2 linked regions of the Homo sapiens genome follow. Each later gene encodes a partner of the first gene's protein in a complex. Each region holds a gene or a part of one and is shown on either strand. Other genes may lie near its edges. The genes, in order: TUBGCP2 and NME7.

Region 1 (8,044 bases):
ATGTCCAGCACAGAACGTGCCCAGCAAGAACCGGCTGGGTCCTTGGGAGCCGCTGCACTCAACACGCACCCAGGAGGCTAGGACGCCTCAGGGACACAGCTCCAAAGGGAGTTTAAAGGTCACAAAGGCAGGAACGTGGCAGCTCTAATGAGAGAGACTGGGAGATGACTTACGTCAAAAGACCAGGGTAGGGCATAAAATCAAAACCAAGAGCAAGTAGCAAATACAGAAGGAATAATAAAAATTACTGTATTTTCGAGAATCTTGAAAATATAATGATCTGAAAGCATTCCCTCAAAATTGTCAAAAATTGGAGGAGGGAAATGGGGAGTCAGGATTGGGTAGGCTCAGAGTCACGTGGCCACCTGGCAGCACAACTCCCACGTGGGTCAGAACCTTGCTGCTATTGATTCTTGTGGTCCAGAATTCTTGGTTAAAAAAAAAACTAAACATATAGAGCTAGGTCATGATCAAGCATTAAGCCTTGGCCTCTCTAAGGGATTCATTTTCAATAAATGACAGAGAGACATGTCCTTCCAGCAGGGGCCCGGCACAGCACTGAGTGTGGGTGCCTGTGGACGCCACGGACACAGGACCTGCTGCAGCATGGAGCCTGTGGACAGCCATGGACGCAGTACCTGCTGCAGCGTGGAGCCTGTGGCCACGCTGCCAAGCTGCTTCCTCAGTTCCTCAAGCTCCTGCATGGAGATCTTGGAGGCCGCGGCAGGGACGTTGATGCTGGTGGTACTGCTGCCCACAGCAGCGGCTGCAAGCTCAGCTCTTTCTTTTGCATTCTGTTGTAAGTACTGCAGAGTCTGAAAACATGTAAAACTGTGTGTTCACACTGGGCCAGCACCTCTTTGGCCATAGGGGGAGAGTAGGGACGACACCACCAGGACGGCTCCCCAACCCTGACAGGCACCCATTAATAGCAAAGCGACGCGTGCGACAGGCAGGAACTGAGCGTGACACATGCGGGAAGCTCAAAGTGCCCCAGAGGCTGCTTCTCATGTTTACACCCAACATGGGTTATCTTTCATTCTGATTCACCAAAAATTTCCTACATGGCCTAGAAGCGTTACTGGTGTGAGCGAGGAAGAGCTGACAGGAAGATGGCGTGGAGTGAGCAGGAGACGCGACCCCACTCCCAACATGGGCCGTACGGGCGCAGTGTGGCACGTGGCATGGGCACCTACCTCTTTGTCTTCCGTGAGCTTTGACAACAGGTACACCAGCGGGTCAAGGTTCCTTGTATTTTTAGATTTCAGTTCATCATATTTCTTTAGAAAGTCTTCTGGAGTACGAGAAAACTCTGCAATTTTAACCTCAAAAGCACAAACATGAGTGATTTAATGACGGTAATTAATAAAGCACTGTAAAAAAAAACCTTTACGAAAATTGAACACAATAAGCCAATGGAATTAAATTGGGTAGGTTAAATAATTATCCCTCTGAAATAAACTAACAAAACTCATCTCCATATTGTGTTAAACTTATCCATGTTTTGAGCTAGGCAGTGGCTCATGACTGTAATCCCAGCACTTTGGGAGGCCGAGGCTGGTAGACTGCTTGAGTCCAGGAGTTCAAGACCAGCCTGGCCAAAATAACAAAACCCCATTTCTACAAAAAGATTCAAAAATTAGCGAGGCGTGGTGGCACTTGCCTGTGGTCACTACTTGGGAAGCTGAGATGGGAGGATCACATCAGCCTGGGAGGTTGAGACTGCAGTAAGACAAGATCGTGCCACATGCATTCCAGCCTGGGTGACAGAGTAAGACTCTGTCTCAAAACAAAACAAAACAAACCTTATCCGTATTTCCCATTATGGTTCCTTTCCTTTTGTGCTTCTTCGTATTATTTTAATTTTTTCTAGAGACAGGATTTCACCATGTTGCCCAGACTGCTCTCAAACTCCCAGGCTCAAGCCATCCACCTGCCTCGTCCCAAAGTGCTGGCGTTACAGGTGTGAGCCCCTGCGCCCGCCCTTTTATGCTTCTTCAGGTTTGTACTGGAGAGTAGCGACTTACACTTCCCCCCAGTAGTTTATGCGTTCATTGTATACATTTCACTGTATTCCCTTTTATGCTGCTTCAGGTTTGTACTGGAGAGTAGCAACTTGCATTTCCCCCCAGTAGTTTATGCGTTCATTGTATGCATCTCACTGTGTTCCCTTTTATGCTTCTTCAGGTTTGTACTGGAGAGTAGCGACTTACCTTTTCCCCCCAGTAGTTTATGCGTTCATTGTCTGCATCTCACTGTATTCCCCGCAGTAGTTTATGCGTTCATTGTATACACCTCACTATGTTCCCTCTGGAATTTGTTATTATGTGCAACCCTAGGGGTTATGCTTTTTCTTTTGGACGGAGTTTCGCTCTTGTTGCCCAGGCTGGAGTGCAATGGCGTGATCTAGGCTCACCGCAACCTCCACCTCCCTGGTTCAAGTAATTCTCCTGCCTCAGCCTCCTGAGTAGCTGCATTACTGGCACGCACCACCACGCCCTAATTTTTGTATTTTTAGTAGCGATGGGGTTTCTCCATGTTGGCCAGGCTGGTCTCGAACTCCCAACCTTAGGTGATCCACCCGCCTCGGCCTCCCAAAGGGCTGGGATTACAGGTGTGAGCGACCGTGCCCAGCAGGGGTTATGTTTTACTCAGTGATTTACAATGCTTCCTTCAGAATGAACTAAACATGGGTGTCCCCAAGTCTCTATTCCACTCGGCTAATTTGCCTAATTATCCTTGTGCCATTGTTAACCTGTTTAAATAACTGAAGCTTCATAATGTATTTTTTAAAATAGACTTCAAATTCAAAATCATTTTTACTGAAAATCTATACTTCTGAATTACATATTATCTGAATAAAGAAATAATACCTTAAAGGCATTTCAACATGGTTAATACCAGTCCCTCCCTTTTTTTTTTTTTTTTTTTTTTTTTTTTTTGAGACAGAGTCTCACTCTGACGCCCAGGCTGGAATGCAGTGGCACGATATCTCGGCTCACTGCAAGCTCCACCTCCCGGGTTCACGCCACTCTCCTGCCTCAGCCCCCCGAGTAGCTGGGATTACAGGTGCCCGCCACCACACCCAGCTAATTTTTTGTATTTTTAGTAGAGACGGGGTTTCACCGTGTTAGCCAGGGTGGTCTTGATCTCCTGACCTTGTGATCCACCTGCCTCAGCCTCCCAAAGTGCTGGGATTACAGGTGTGAGCCACCGCGCCTGGCCCAGTCCCTCCCTTTTTATCCACAGGAATGCACATGTCAGGACTCTCCCACCTCATGGCTGCAGGGGACAGAGTGGGGAAGAGGGAGGGTTCTAGGCCCAGCTTTCTCCATAGGCCTCCATTTACTCATCTGCACAGTGGGGTGAATCACAGGAGCTGCTGGGGGGAGTCAGGAGAATCAGAGCTGAACACACACACAGACCAAGTGCTGTCTGCCATCGTTGCCGGTACCATTGAGGCCACCCAGGAACGGGCACTCACCCTGCATCTTGCACGGTACACAGCCCTGCACCAGGGGCAGTGCTCACCCTGCACCATCCTGACCCCGGGGTGGCGCTCACCCTGCACCCCGCACAGCCCTGCACCAGAGGTGGCGCTCACCCTGCACCCTGCACCAGAGGTGGCGCTCACCCTGCACCCTGCACCAGAGGTGGCGCTCACCCTGCCCCCTGCACCAGAGGTGGCGCTCACCCTGCACCCTGACCCAGGGGCGGTGCTCATCATGCACCCTGACCCAGGGACGACGCTCATCCTGCACATGGACTGAGGGGTGGGTTCACCCTGCACCATCCTGATCCAGGAACAGTGTTCATCCTGCACCCTGACCCAGGGGTGGGCTCACCCTGCACCCTCACCCAGGAATGGTGCTCACCCTGTACCACCCTGACCCAGGAACGGCGCTCACCCTGCACCCTGACCCAGGGGTGGGCTCACCCTGCACCACCCTGACCCAGGAACAGTGCTCACCCTGCACAGCGCTACACCAAGGGCAGTGCTCACCTTGGCACTGTGAGCAGAGACAGTGGTAGTGACGTACGGGGTCCTGTTCTTTTGAAGCAGGTCAATGTAGACCTCAGCCCCATCTCCTCCGTGGACACGCAGCAGGCTAAGCAGTTCATTGACGTCATGGTGAATCCGAAATTCACTCATAGTTTTAGCTCTGAGGCACGAACATCACAATATGTTCTCCTATAGGTAAGAAGACAGCTATTCATAAAATTCAAACTGTAGAAATAAAAAACATTTTTTTAAACACTCAAGACTGGCCAATGTCAGGCTTTGACAAACCAAGTTATCACCTGGCCTGCCTGGCCTAGGGCCCCTCCCCCAACAGCCCAGCAGCCTCTCAGAGGGTCCTCTGCATGGGCCTGGGATTAGGGCCCCTGCCCAACACCCCAGCAGCCTCTCAGAGGGTCCTCTGGACGGGACTGGGATTAGGGCCCCTCCCTGAACTCCAGCAGCCTCTCAGAGGGTCCTCTGCATGGGCCTGGGATTAGGGCCCCTCCCCGACACCCCAGCAGCCTCTCAGAGGGTCCTCTGGGTGGGCCTGGGATTCACCTGCCTCCAGCTTCCAGGCGGCCTCCGCAGCTCCGGGAGCCAGCCCCGTGGGCAGCATGAATGGGGCCTGAGACCCAGGTTCCCTTTCCCCTGCACCTCCCTCCACACATGGGTCTGGGCCAGCAGGGAATGCTCTGCTGCTCGCCTCGGCTTGGGGACAGAGCTTTCTGGTCCCAGACGTGAGGCCTGTGGGGTCTACACAGGGAGCTCTGTGCAGGCCCAAGCCATTGACACTGTGCCAGCTACCGGCACACACAGTAACATCCCAGCTTCTACCGGAGAGGCCCACACTGGTTCTCAGAGCCCGCGGTGCTCAGCCGCAGCTCCATTCACTTGGCCGGCTCTGCGTTACTTTTTCACTCTGGTACCCGTGACATCTCCTTTTCTTGCCCAAGCGTGGCTACCGACAGAGACGCTTCTGGTAGGACTTCTACACGTTCCCTACACGTTTGAGCTAGGTGAAGTTCCACTGCAGCTCCAGCTGCCCCAGGGGCTCACCAGGAGACATATAACACATATGAGATCGAAGGCGTCACAGACACCCAAGTGGGCAGCAGAACACTGCGTGGGGTCAGGGTGTAGGGTGAGCCCACCCCTGGGTCAGGGGGCAGGGTGAGCGCCGCCCCTACTCTCCCACCAGTGGCTGCTCATTAGCCTCTGTCACCAAGAGTTCCGATACAAGGCCATTAAGACAAACACATGGCTGTGTGCAGTGGCTCTCGCCTGGAATCCCAGCATTTTGGGAGGCTGAGTCAGGTGAGTCACTCGAGGCCAGGAGTCAAGACAGCCTGGGCAACACAGTGAGACTCTGTCTCTACAAAAAATACAAAAATTAACTGGGCATGGTAGCATATGCCTGTAGTCTTAGCTACTCGGGAGGCTGAGGTGGGAGGATCGCTTGAGCCACTCCAGCCTGGGCGACAGAGGGAGACCCTGTCTCAACAAAAAACAAAACAAAACAAAAAACACAGGCAAGGCAACTGGCTATAGATTACAAAACAAATATAAGCAAACTTTACATGCTTCACAAACATTTCATCTACACAAGGGTTCTTAAGCCGGTATCCATGAGTAATCAGTAACAGATGAGCCCTTGAAAGTTATGGGCAAAATAACTTTTTATTTTCTGAGGAGATGACCCTTCAACAAATTCTCAAAGGCTCTATGACCCAAAAAAGGTAAACAACCACTCTGCTGACAGCTTCAGGGAGACAAGGATGAGCTCAACAAAACATCGAGTGTGGGCGGCAAGCCACCCAGGTGCCGAGGCAAGAGACCGAGGGCACGAGCTGTTCCAGTGTAACAAAATATATAAAACAACAAGAGTTATGCTAGATCTAGATCATAGATATGATTATATATGAATATCATTAATCATCAGTTTGTAGCAATTACTCTTTATTCCAATATTATAATAATCCTTGCTCTACAATCATAACCTAGGAAAAACCAGGCCATACAGAGATAGGAGCTGAGGGGACATAGTGAGAAGTGACCAGAAGACAAGAATGTGAGCCTTCTGTCATGCCCGGACAGGGCCACCAGAGGGCTCCTTGGTCTAGCGGTGATGCCAGCGTCTGGGAAGATGCCCCTTGCCAAGCGGACCTTGGTCTAGCGGTAGTGTCAGTGTCAAGGAAAAACACCCGCTACTTAGCAGACCGGGAAAGGGAGTCTCCCTTTCCCCGGAGAGTTTAGAGAAGACTCTACGCCTCCAACTCTTGTGGAGGGCCTGACATCAGTCAGGCCCGCCCGCAGTTATCCGGAGGCCTGACTGTCTCCCTGTGATGCTGTGCTTCAGCGGTCACACTCCTGGTCTGCTCTCATGTTCCATCCCGTACACCTGGCTCCGCCCTCTAGATAGCAGTAGCAAAATTAGTGAAAGTATTAAAGTCTTTGATCTTTCTGAAAAGAACATAGAAGAAATAATGACATAAGCTGTCCTCTCTCTCTCCGCCTCGGCTACGTAACAGGGAAGGGCCCCATGTCTGGTGGACACATGACACACATGACCTTATCAATCATTGGAGATGACTCACACTCTTTACCCTGCCCCTTTTGCTTTGTATCCAATAAATAACAGCGCAGCCAGGCATTCGGGGCCACTACCGGTCTCTGCGTCTTGGTGGTAGTGGTTCCCCGGGCCCGCTGTCTTTTCTTTTATCTCTTTGTCTTGCGTCTTTATTTTTACAATCTCTCATCTCCGCACACGAGGAGAAAAACCCACCGACCCTGTGGGGCTGGTCCCTACAATAGAGTACAGAAGACTCAGCACATACTCCCACAATATGCTAATTCACTAACGATTATTAGCACGGGACTCGACACCGAGATTCTAATCCTGTGTGATGGAAGACAGTTTATCTGTAGATGAACATCAAATACTGGTCACAGGCAGGGTATCTCCGAAAATGGAAGGAGAGCGATAAGAAGGCATGGTGCTGAGTTGCTCACACACATGCTTTTGACCCAGGAGGTGCTCACGGTAACTACAGTTCAAGCACAAGGCCAGCAGGGCACGCGCCATGGAGCCCCATGCAGTCTGGACACTGACGTGGCTACTTCTAGGCTGTGGGACCCTGAACAAGGACACGTCCTCTCCAAGCTTCTTCTGAAAAGGGGAAGCCCTAGGTCCTGCGTAGAGCTGTGGTAGAGAGAAGTGAAATCACCCTGAGAAAGCACAGAAGGGCCCATACGTGGTAAGTTCTTACACTGTTGTTACCAGGAAAGCAGAAACAAACATGCGGCACCATTGCTCCCTGGAGGTGTTAACTCTGTTATCTGGGAAATGGTTAGGTTTACAAAAGGAAAATTGGGTCCCAATCACTGACAACATCTTAAACTACCAGATGCTTTTTTAACAGTCATGGGAGCCCTGGACGAGGCCCTGCAAACTACTTGTGAAGCAGAAAAGACAGCCCAAACTTTCCGGCCAGCGGCCCCTTCAAATCCAAGGGTGGCCTGTTTCACCCACATTCTACTCGGCTCCCCGAGGACTGCAGGTTGTCCTATAACTGCTGGTCTGAGAAACACTTTGGTCATGCTAGGTGGCAAGAAAACCATTTGCCACCAAAACAAAGCACTCCCCCACCAGACACAAGTCAGGAGAGAAAGCTACCTATGAAGAAAAATCATCTGAGTATTTATTTAAAAACTACATGCTGGGCACGGTGGCTCACGCCTGTAATCTCAGCACTTTGGGAAGCCAAGGTGGGCGGATCATGAGGTCAGGAGATCGAGACCATCCTGGCTAACATGGTGAAACCCCATCTCTACTAAAAATACAAAAAAATTAGCCGGGGGTGGTGGCGGGCGCTTGTAGTCGCAGATACTCCAGAGGCTGGGGCAGGAGAATGGCATGAACCCGAGAGGCGGAGCTTGCAGTGAGCCAAGATCACACCACTGCATTCCAGCCTGGGCAACAGAGCGAGACTCTGTCTCAAAAAATAATAATAAAAAAAATAAAAACTACCTTCAGGAAACTTC
Region 2 (8,044 bases), on another chromosome or scaffold:
CCACTGATGGGCGCCTGGGTTGATTCCATGTCTTTGCTATTTTGTATAGTGCTGCAATGAACAGGCAAGTGCATGTATCTTTTTGGTAGAAAGGTTTGTTTTCTTTTGGATATATAGCAGTAATGGGATTTAAGGTTCAAATGGTAGTTCTGTTTTAAGTCCTTTGAAAAAACTCCAAACTATTTTCTACAGTGGTTGAGGTACTAATTTGCATTTCCATCAACAGTGTATAAGTGTGTTCCCTTTCTCTACAGACTTGCCAGCATATCTGTCGTTTTTTGACTTTTTTTTTAAAAAAAAATCAACTTCTATTTTAGATACAGGGGGTACACATGCAGATTTGTTACGTGGGAATATTGTGTGATGCTGAGGTTTGGAGTATGGATCCCATCATCCAGGTAGTGAGTATAGTACCCAATAGGTAGTTTTTCAAACCACCTGCCTTCTCTCCTCTAGTAGTCCACAGTGTCTATTACCCCCAAATTTGTGTCTATGTGTGTTTAATGTTTAGCTCCTACTTGTAAGTGCGAACATGCAGCATTTGGTTTTCTGTTTGTGGATTAATTTGTTTAGGATTATGGCCTCCAATTGTGTCCATATTATTGCCAAGGACATAATTTTATTTTTTTATGGCTGTGTAGAATTCTGTGTTATATATATATACCACATTTTCTTTATCCAATCTGCCACTGATGGGCACTTGAGTTATTTCCATGTATTTGCTATTGTGAATAGCACAGCAATGAGTGTATGAGGGCATGTGTCTTTTTGGCAGAATTTCTTTTCTTTTGGGTATATACCCAGTAATGGAATTGCTAGGTTAAATGGTAGCTCTGTTTTAAGTTCTTTGAGAAATATCCACACTGCTTTCCACAATGGCTGGAGTAATTAATATTCCCACCAACCGTGTATAAGCATTCTCTTTCCTCTATAGTCTTGCCAGCATGTTATTTTTTGACTTTTTAATAATAACCATTCTGACTGGTGTGAAATGGTATCTCATTGTGGTTTTGATTTGCATTTCTCCGATGATTAGTGATATTGAGCGTTTTTTCGTATGCTTATTGGCTGCTTGTATGTTCTTTTGAGAAGTGTGTATTTATGTCTTTTGCTCTTTTTTTAGTGGGGTTGTTTCATGCTTGTTTGATTATTTAAGGTCGTTACAGATTCTGCATATTAGTCCTTTGTTGAATGCATAGTTTGTGAATATTTTCTCTCATTCTGTGGATTGTCTTTTTACTCTGTTGCTAGTGCAGAAGCTTTCTGTGCAGAAGCTCTTTAGTCCCACTCGTCAATTTTTGTTTTCGTTGCCATTACTTTTGAGGACTTAGTCATAAATTCTTTCCCCAGGCCAATGTCCAGAATGGTGTTTCCTAGGTTTTCTTCTAGGATTCTTATAGTTTGAGGTCTTACTTTTAAATCTTTAATCCATCTTGAGTAAAGTTTTGTATATGGTTAATGTTAAGGGGCCAGTTTCTTTCTTCTGCTTATGGCTAGACAGGTATCCCAGCACCATTTATTGAATAGAGAATCCTTTCTCCATTGCTTATTTTTGTTGACTTTGTCAAAGTTCAGATGGCTGTAGATGTGTGGCTTTATTTCTGGGTTCTCTATTATGTTCCAGTGATCTATGTGTCTGTTTTTGTACCAGTACCATGATGTTTTGGTTACTGTAGCCTGTTGTACTTTTAAACTATTTTGGTAGTCTTGTATACATAAAGCAATGTTCATGGAACCTTTCTATTTTAACTAGTTTGATATATATTTTGTTCCTTGACATAGAACAGATAATATATGTTACACTTTATGTATTCTAAATATTTGACATGTAATTAAATTTAAGTGAATATTTTGCATGCTCATATTATTATTACTGTTGCCAAAGACTGTTTACACTTCTAATAAGAAAGAATGTTACATCAGCCAAACTAAATGGCCACAGTAGACATGTTATTTGATATCCTGCACTGAGTAGTGGGTTTTTAAAAAAATTTGTATGTAAGAAAATTATTATGCTATAGATTATTTCAAATCAAGTGTTATAAAATATTCCTAAGCCTTCTTAGAATAGCTATATACACTTTTCTAGAAAATTGGTGGAAATTATCTTTTGGTATAAACTTTGTATATGTTTATAGCATTAACTTACAACTCCTAGTCTAATGATTTATGTGTGATTTGCATGCAGTAAATTTTATTAAAGGAATGAATTAACTAGTTGCCTGTTAATGAGAATGATGTAACAAAAGACTAGGTGAAGTAATTAAATTTTCATGAAGCAGTATCTATGATCAGGCACATCCTTCCCTATATTGTTACATGCCATATTCATAGGCTTATTCAATTGTGTGTTTTGAGAATTTTGTATTAATAGGGCGTTAGATTGTAAGTGTCTTGAAGGGGGATCTTTTTTGTGGCACAGACGCTGATATGTTATAGGCAATTATTAAATGCTTATTGAGTGAATAAACATGGTTTGCTCCTTTGATTTGGGTTTTTTTAAATCTAGTGGTTGGTCTTGGGGGTTTTGTTTGTTTTGGCAGCAAAGGTCTGGCAGAAAATGTATGAGGAGGTATTATAGAACTCTTAGGATAGAAGACAAGAATACTTTTTTGTACATGCTGTTTTTTAGAAATATTCTTCAAAATGAATGGGAGTGTTTTAAAAAGGAAGTACTGAGGGGAGCTGACATATAACATGCAGGGTGGAAGGAAGTGTGTAAAAAATAGTCATAAGTTAGTGGGCACAAAAGAGCCTGTCACACCATGCTCCTTTCTCCAGGAGGATCTCTTCTCTCTACTTTGGATGAGAGAAAACCATGGGCTTACTCTAAAAAGTACTGTGTCCCTGCTTAATATAGTCAGAGGGAGGATGTCACTTATTTCATAGTTAAACTTGTCATTGCATCCTGTACACATATAAAAGTAGAAAATAAAATGAAGTATTGTCTTTTATACCTTGGGGGACTGTGACTCAGTGCTGGATTTTTAGTCAAGAACCGATGCGTACACTTTAATAATTTAATACAGAAATAACCCAGAGTAGTTTTTACGCTAATAAAAGGATATTTCTTGAAGCCTGCTGGGGATTTTTTTTTTTATCACCAAACCAGCTCAGTGTTTATTGATTAAGAGAGTTCTTTGTCAGTCTTTGAATTCTAATAGTTTTACACAAAAATAAATAAATTCTTACTAAAAATATGTTACAAGGCATCCATCCCTATATATTGTGAAATTGTACTTGACTGCAGTGGTAAACACATGTAAATAAAAAGGAAAATCCTCTGTACCTGTTAGAGCACTGGGAAAAGCATAGGTCAACAGTATGCATTTTAAGTCATGAAATAGTCTTAATTCAACAGAACAGTGATTTTTCTGGTAACAGTAATTTGACATTACTAGTGATTTGAAGTGAATTGAGCCACTGCAAGACACTCAATTTATGAAAAATTTCTCCTGCCCATGTAAAATTAACTATGCTTAATGGTTCTAAGATTATAATATTCATGTCTATGTTGAAATAATCCAATTTAAATATATCCTGTCGTTAAGACAAATACCTAGTTGACAGAAAAAAGAAGCAAACTAATCTTCTATCTGTTTTGTAGTGAGCTGATCCAGTTTATTACAACTGGTCCTATTATTGCCATGGAGATTTTAAGAGATGATGCTATATGTGAATGGAAAAGACTGCTGGGACCTGCAAACTCTGGAGTGGCACGCACAGATGCTTCTGAAAGCATTAGAGCCCTCTTTGGAACAGATGGCATAAGAAATGCAGCGCATGGCCCTGATTCTTTTGCTTCTGCGGCCAGAGTAAGGTGTTTTAAAAATATTTTAATGCTCTTCTAGTTCTGTTAAATGTTTTATATCAAAGGAAAGCATTTCTATCACTGGTGACTTAGGGTGGATTTATGCTGCTGCTCTAGTAGTAGAGAAAACCTTTGACATCTTGCCTACTATCAAACAGTGATTCAGTGTGTCTCCTTTGTGAACTGGTAACCTGATCATGATCAACGTAAGTTTTCTCCAATTAAAACACTTCTCATCCTGTTTCTTGTTCCCAAGACTTAAATTACTGAGGCTCCTAAATGTTTGAATTATTGAATTCATGTAAGAATACCAGTTTATGGCTAGTAGATATTAAAAAGAAGATATAATTTGAGATATTTCCTTTTGATTCAGACGTAACACTGTGCTTTCAAGCTTAACATCCTATTATTTTCCTATATATAGCTAGTGTTTATGAAAGTTTCTCTACTCCTTATTTTTAAATCCATATAAATAAAGCATTTATTGGATTTATACTGAGGTTGAATTAAAGAAGTGTAAGTTTATTTTTAGCATCGTGAGAAGTGTCTCACTTAAGGTAGTTTTTAATCTGGTTGTGTTTGCAATGAAACAATATTAGACAGTTTTATAATTGATTTCTTTCTTTTTCCTACCATTTCATCAGCAAGTCCCTTCAGCTCTTTCAAAATAAACCCTGAATCTGATCATTGTGGTCTGAATCACTATTATATTTTGCCAGAACTGCTACAATAGCCTCCAAATTCTTTTTTCCTCTTTTCTTACACTCAATTAATGAAAATTTTACCTTACCCAAGTAAAATCAGCTATGCCCAGTGATCTTTTAAAGACAAATCAGATTAACATTCACCTGCTGAAAACCCTTCAGTGAATTTCTGTCTCTTCTAGAATAAAATCTAAAGTCTTTATTGTGGCCTCCAATGCTCTATCTAGTCTGGCCCATATCTATCTCTAACTGTATCTTTGATCAATCTCTATCTTAATCATTGTGTTCCAGGCACACTAACCATCTCGCTATTCCTTGAATAGCATATTTCTGTCTGGAATGGTCAACTAACAGCAAAGAGGACAGTGTGGTTGGATAGGAATGAGAGAGGGAGGAAGAGGGTGATGAGGTTACAGAGGTAATTAGGGGAAAGATTATATGGTCTTATAGGCCGTAGTAGTACTTTTAGATTTTTCTCTGAAAAAATAGAGAGCCATTTTAGGGTTTTGAACAAAGGACTGATATCTTCCACTTGCCATTTAAAAGGATCATTCTGGCTGTTGCATTAAGAATGACTATAGAGGCTGGGAGTGGTGGCTCACACCTGTAATCCCAGCACTTTGGGAGGCCAAGGCGGGCAGATCATTTGAGGCCAGGAGTTCGAGACCAGCCTGGCCAATATGGTAAAACCCTGTTTCTACTAAAAATACAAAAATTAGCTGGGTGTGGTGGCGCCCACCTGTAATCCCAGCTACTCCAGAGGCTAAGGTGGGAGAATTGCTTGAACCAGGGAGGTGGAGGTTGCAGTGAACTGAGATCATGCCACTGTGCTCTAGCCTGGGTGACAGAGTGAGACTCCATCTCGGGGGAAAAAAAAAAGAATGACTATAGAGGGCAAAAACAGCAACAGGGAGCCTAATCAGGAGTCTGTTGGAATAACCCAGTGAGATGATGGCTTGGACCTGGGTGGTAATAATGAAAGAAGTATACAAATATATTTTAAAATATATATTAACGGTTGAAGGTCAAATAAACAAGATTTTCTGCTAGATTGAATGTAGAGTATGAGAAAAAGATACCAAGTATTACTCCAAAGTTCTTAGCCTGATTATCAGAAGGATAGAATTTACGTAAACTGAAATGAGGAAAACTGTGGCTAGAGTCAGAATGAATGGACAATCAGGAGTTAACGTTTTGGACATTTATAAACTTAACCTGTTTGTTAGTTTTCCAATTAGACTGATGAAAAAAATTAGTGTGACAGCTTAGAGTTATCAGCACATAAATGGTATTTAAAGCCGGGAGACTGGTTGAGATTACCAAGGAGAAGGTATAGATAGAGAAGTAAAGAGGACCAAAGATGAAGCTACATCTTGATAAAAGGTAAGGAGAAGAAGGCAGCAAAGGAGGTTGAAGAGGAGCCACCAGAGAGGTAAGAGGAAAAACTGAGAGATAATTATGTCCTGGAGGCCAAGTGAATCAAATATTCTAAAATGAGAGAATGACCAGTGGTGTCAAATAAGGCAAGTAAGAAGAGGACTAAGAATGGATTGTTAAATTTTGCAATGTGGATATCATTGGTGAACTTTGTAAGGTGAATGTTGATGGGGAGGTGGAGGCAAAACCCTGTGTGGAGTAGACTTAAAAGAAAATTGTGGGACGGGAATTGTAGTTAGTGAATATAGACAACTTTTTTTTTGAGGAGTTTTTTTGAGGAGTTTTCCTGCAAAGAGATGAGGTGGTAGCTGTCAAGAAAAGTAGTATCAATTTTTTTTAAGAGGAGAGGTATTGGGTAAAAAATTGATGATGTAGGAAAAAGAGGAAGACTTGTTGGAGCAATTTCATTAATTAGGCAAAAGGAAATGGAAATTAGAACCCAGGTGGAGAGATTAGGCAGGTGTGCCTCTCAGGTACTCGTCTATAGCAACAGATGGGAAGGGAGAATATGTGAACACAGATGCTGATTCTTAAGTAGGAAGCAAGATCAAAACAGCTGAAAGTGAGGATGAGGTATAAGGTATTGGTTGGTCTGAAGGGAGAGAAGAATATGTGAAATGGTGATCTGGAAAAGGAATAGATCAGGGAAATGTGGTGTGTGATTGCTATACTGAATTAATGGCCCATGTAGTGTTCATGGCCATGAACTATGAGTGTGGTTCTCCAGCCTGTTCAACTGCATGGCTGAAGGTAAGGAGTAGGTGGAGAGCTGGCTTTTAACCATGGCTGTGGTTTTGTGAAACAAATGTGACGGAAGTGTTAAGGAAGTTAAAGATACATGCAAGAGAGCAATTATAGTCTTTGACCATATCTTAGTAGTAGACATTTATTGTAAATGTGGTATTGTTTTGTATAGTTAAATTTCCAATCATATTTTAAAGCATTATAAAAATAATAAACATATCTAATTAATGAAGGAAATAATTGAGGCTGAACTGAAAGTCACTACCATGTTTACTGATATTTCCTGCCTATTTCACCCTATTACCACCTTATGCCATCCATTTCTTTTTTATTTCTACTAGATTATTTAATAAATTTGAGCATAAATATACTTGTTAGATTTTAGCATATCTTGTAGTGGAGCAACTTTTGTTAAGTTAGCTACTGTCTCAGTCCATTTTGTGTTGCTGTGAAGGAATACCTGAGGCTGGGTCATTTATAAAGGAAAAAGGTTTATTTGGCTCATAGTCCTGATGGCTGGGACATCAAGATTGGGCATCTGCATCTCGTGAGGGTCTCAGGCAGCTTCCACTGCCTGAGGTGGAAGGTAAAAGGGAGCCTGCGTGTGCACAGATCACATGGTAAGAGAAGAAGCAAGCCACCGGGAGAGGTGTCAGGCTGTTTTTAACAACCAGCTTTCAGAGGAACTAATAGAGGGAAAATTCGCTCACCTTGGAGGGAGGGCATTAATCTATTCATGGGATTTACCCCTACTATCCAAACCTCCCATTAGGCCCTATCTCCAACATTGGGGATCAAATTTCAACGTGAGATTTGGAAGGAACAAACATCCAATCCAGAGCAGCTACCATTGCCATTTCACCTAAAGAAATGTCTTAAACATATTCGTTTATATTTTGTGCATTTAATTTTTTTAACCTCTTTCTGCCATTAGTTCCTGAAATATCCTATTATTTGTATGAACCCTTTAGGATATATATTTTTTTACCCTTGTCTGGGGAAGAGTGAGTGTTGTTGACATTATGTTAGGTGGCTCTAGGAATTAAGGAAAAATATTGTAGCTGGAAAATGAGCTTATGTGAAGAAGCAAAGACCACAGGTCTTAAAAAATTGAAAAACATCACAGCCCCAAACTTATGCAGCCCCAAACAGCCTCTTCTTTACCTTGAATTCCTATTAGTTATTGTCTAATTTTTCATTCCATCTTTCCAGATTTTACCAAAACATAGACTTATACTCACTATTTTCATTCCTCAGCTATCTTTGACTACTCATTTGTGAGCAATTGTTAAAATTTAGCATTATTTTCATCATTCCTGAAAATACTGTCTTTGGAGACCATGACTTG

The links.
Region 2: TUBGCP2 (region 1) and NME7 share a complex: the UniProt entries of both Homo sapiens proteins name them as parts of the gamma-tubulin ring complex.

What each region holds. Positions count from the first base shown.
Region 1 is NC_000010.11:133,298,789-133,306,832, forward strand, and holds part of TUBGCP2 (gamma-tubulin complex component 2), read right to left. Parts: intron 4,193-8,044; 5' UTR 4,154-4,192; coding exon 4,004-4,153; intron 1,326-4,003; coding exon 1,197-1,325; intron 816-1,196; coding exon 639-815; intron 1-638. UniProt on the Homo sapiens protein: Component of the gamma-tubulin ring complex (gTuRC) which mediates microtubule nucleation.
Region 2 is NC_000001.11:169,294,327-169,302,370, reverse strand, and holds part of NME7 (nucleoside diphosphate kinase homolog 7), read left to right. Parts: intron 1-3,607; coding exon 3,608-3,815; intron 3,816-8,044. UniProt on the Homo sapiens protein: Possesses an intrinsic kinase activity. Displays 3'-5' exonuclease activity with a preference for single-stranded DNA. Does not seem to have nucleoside diphosphate kinase activity.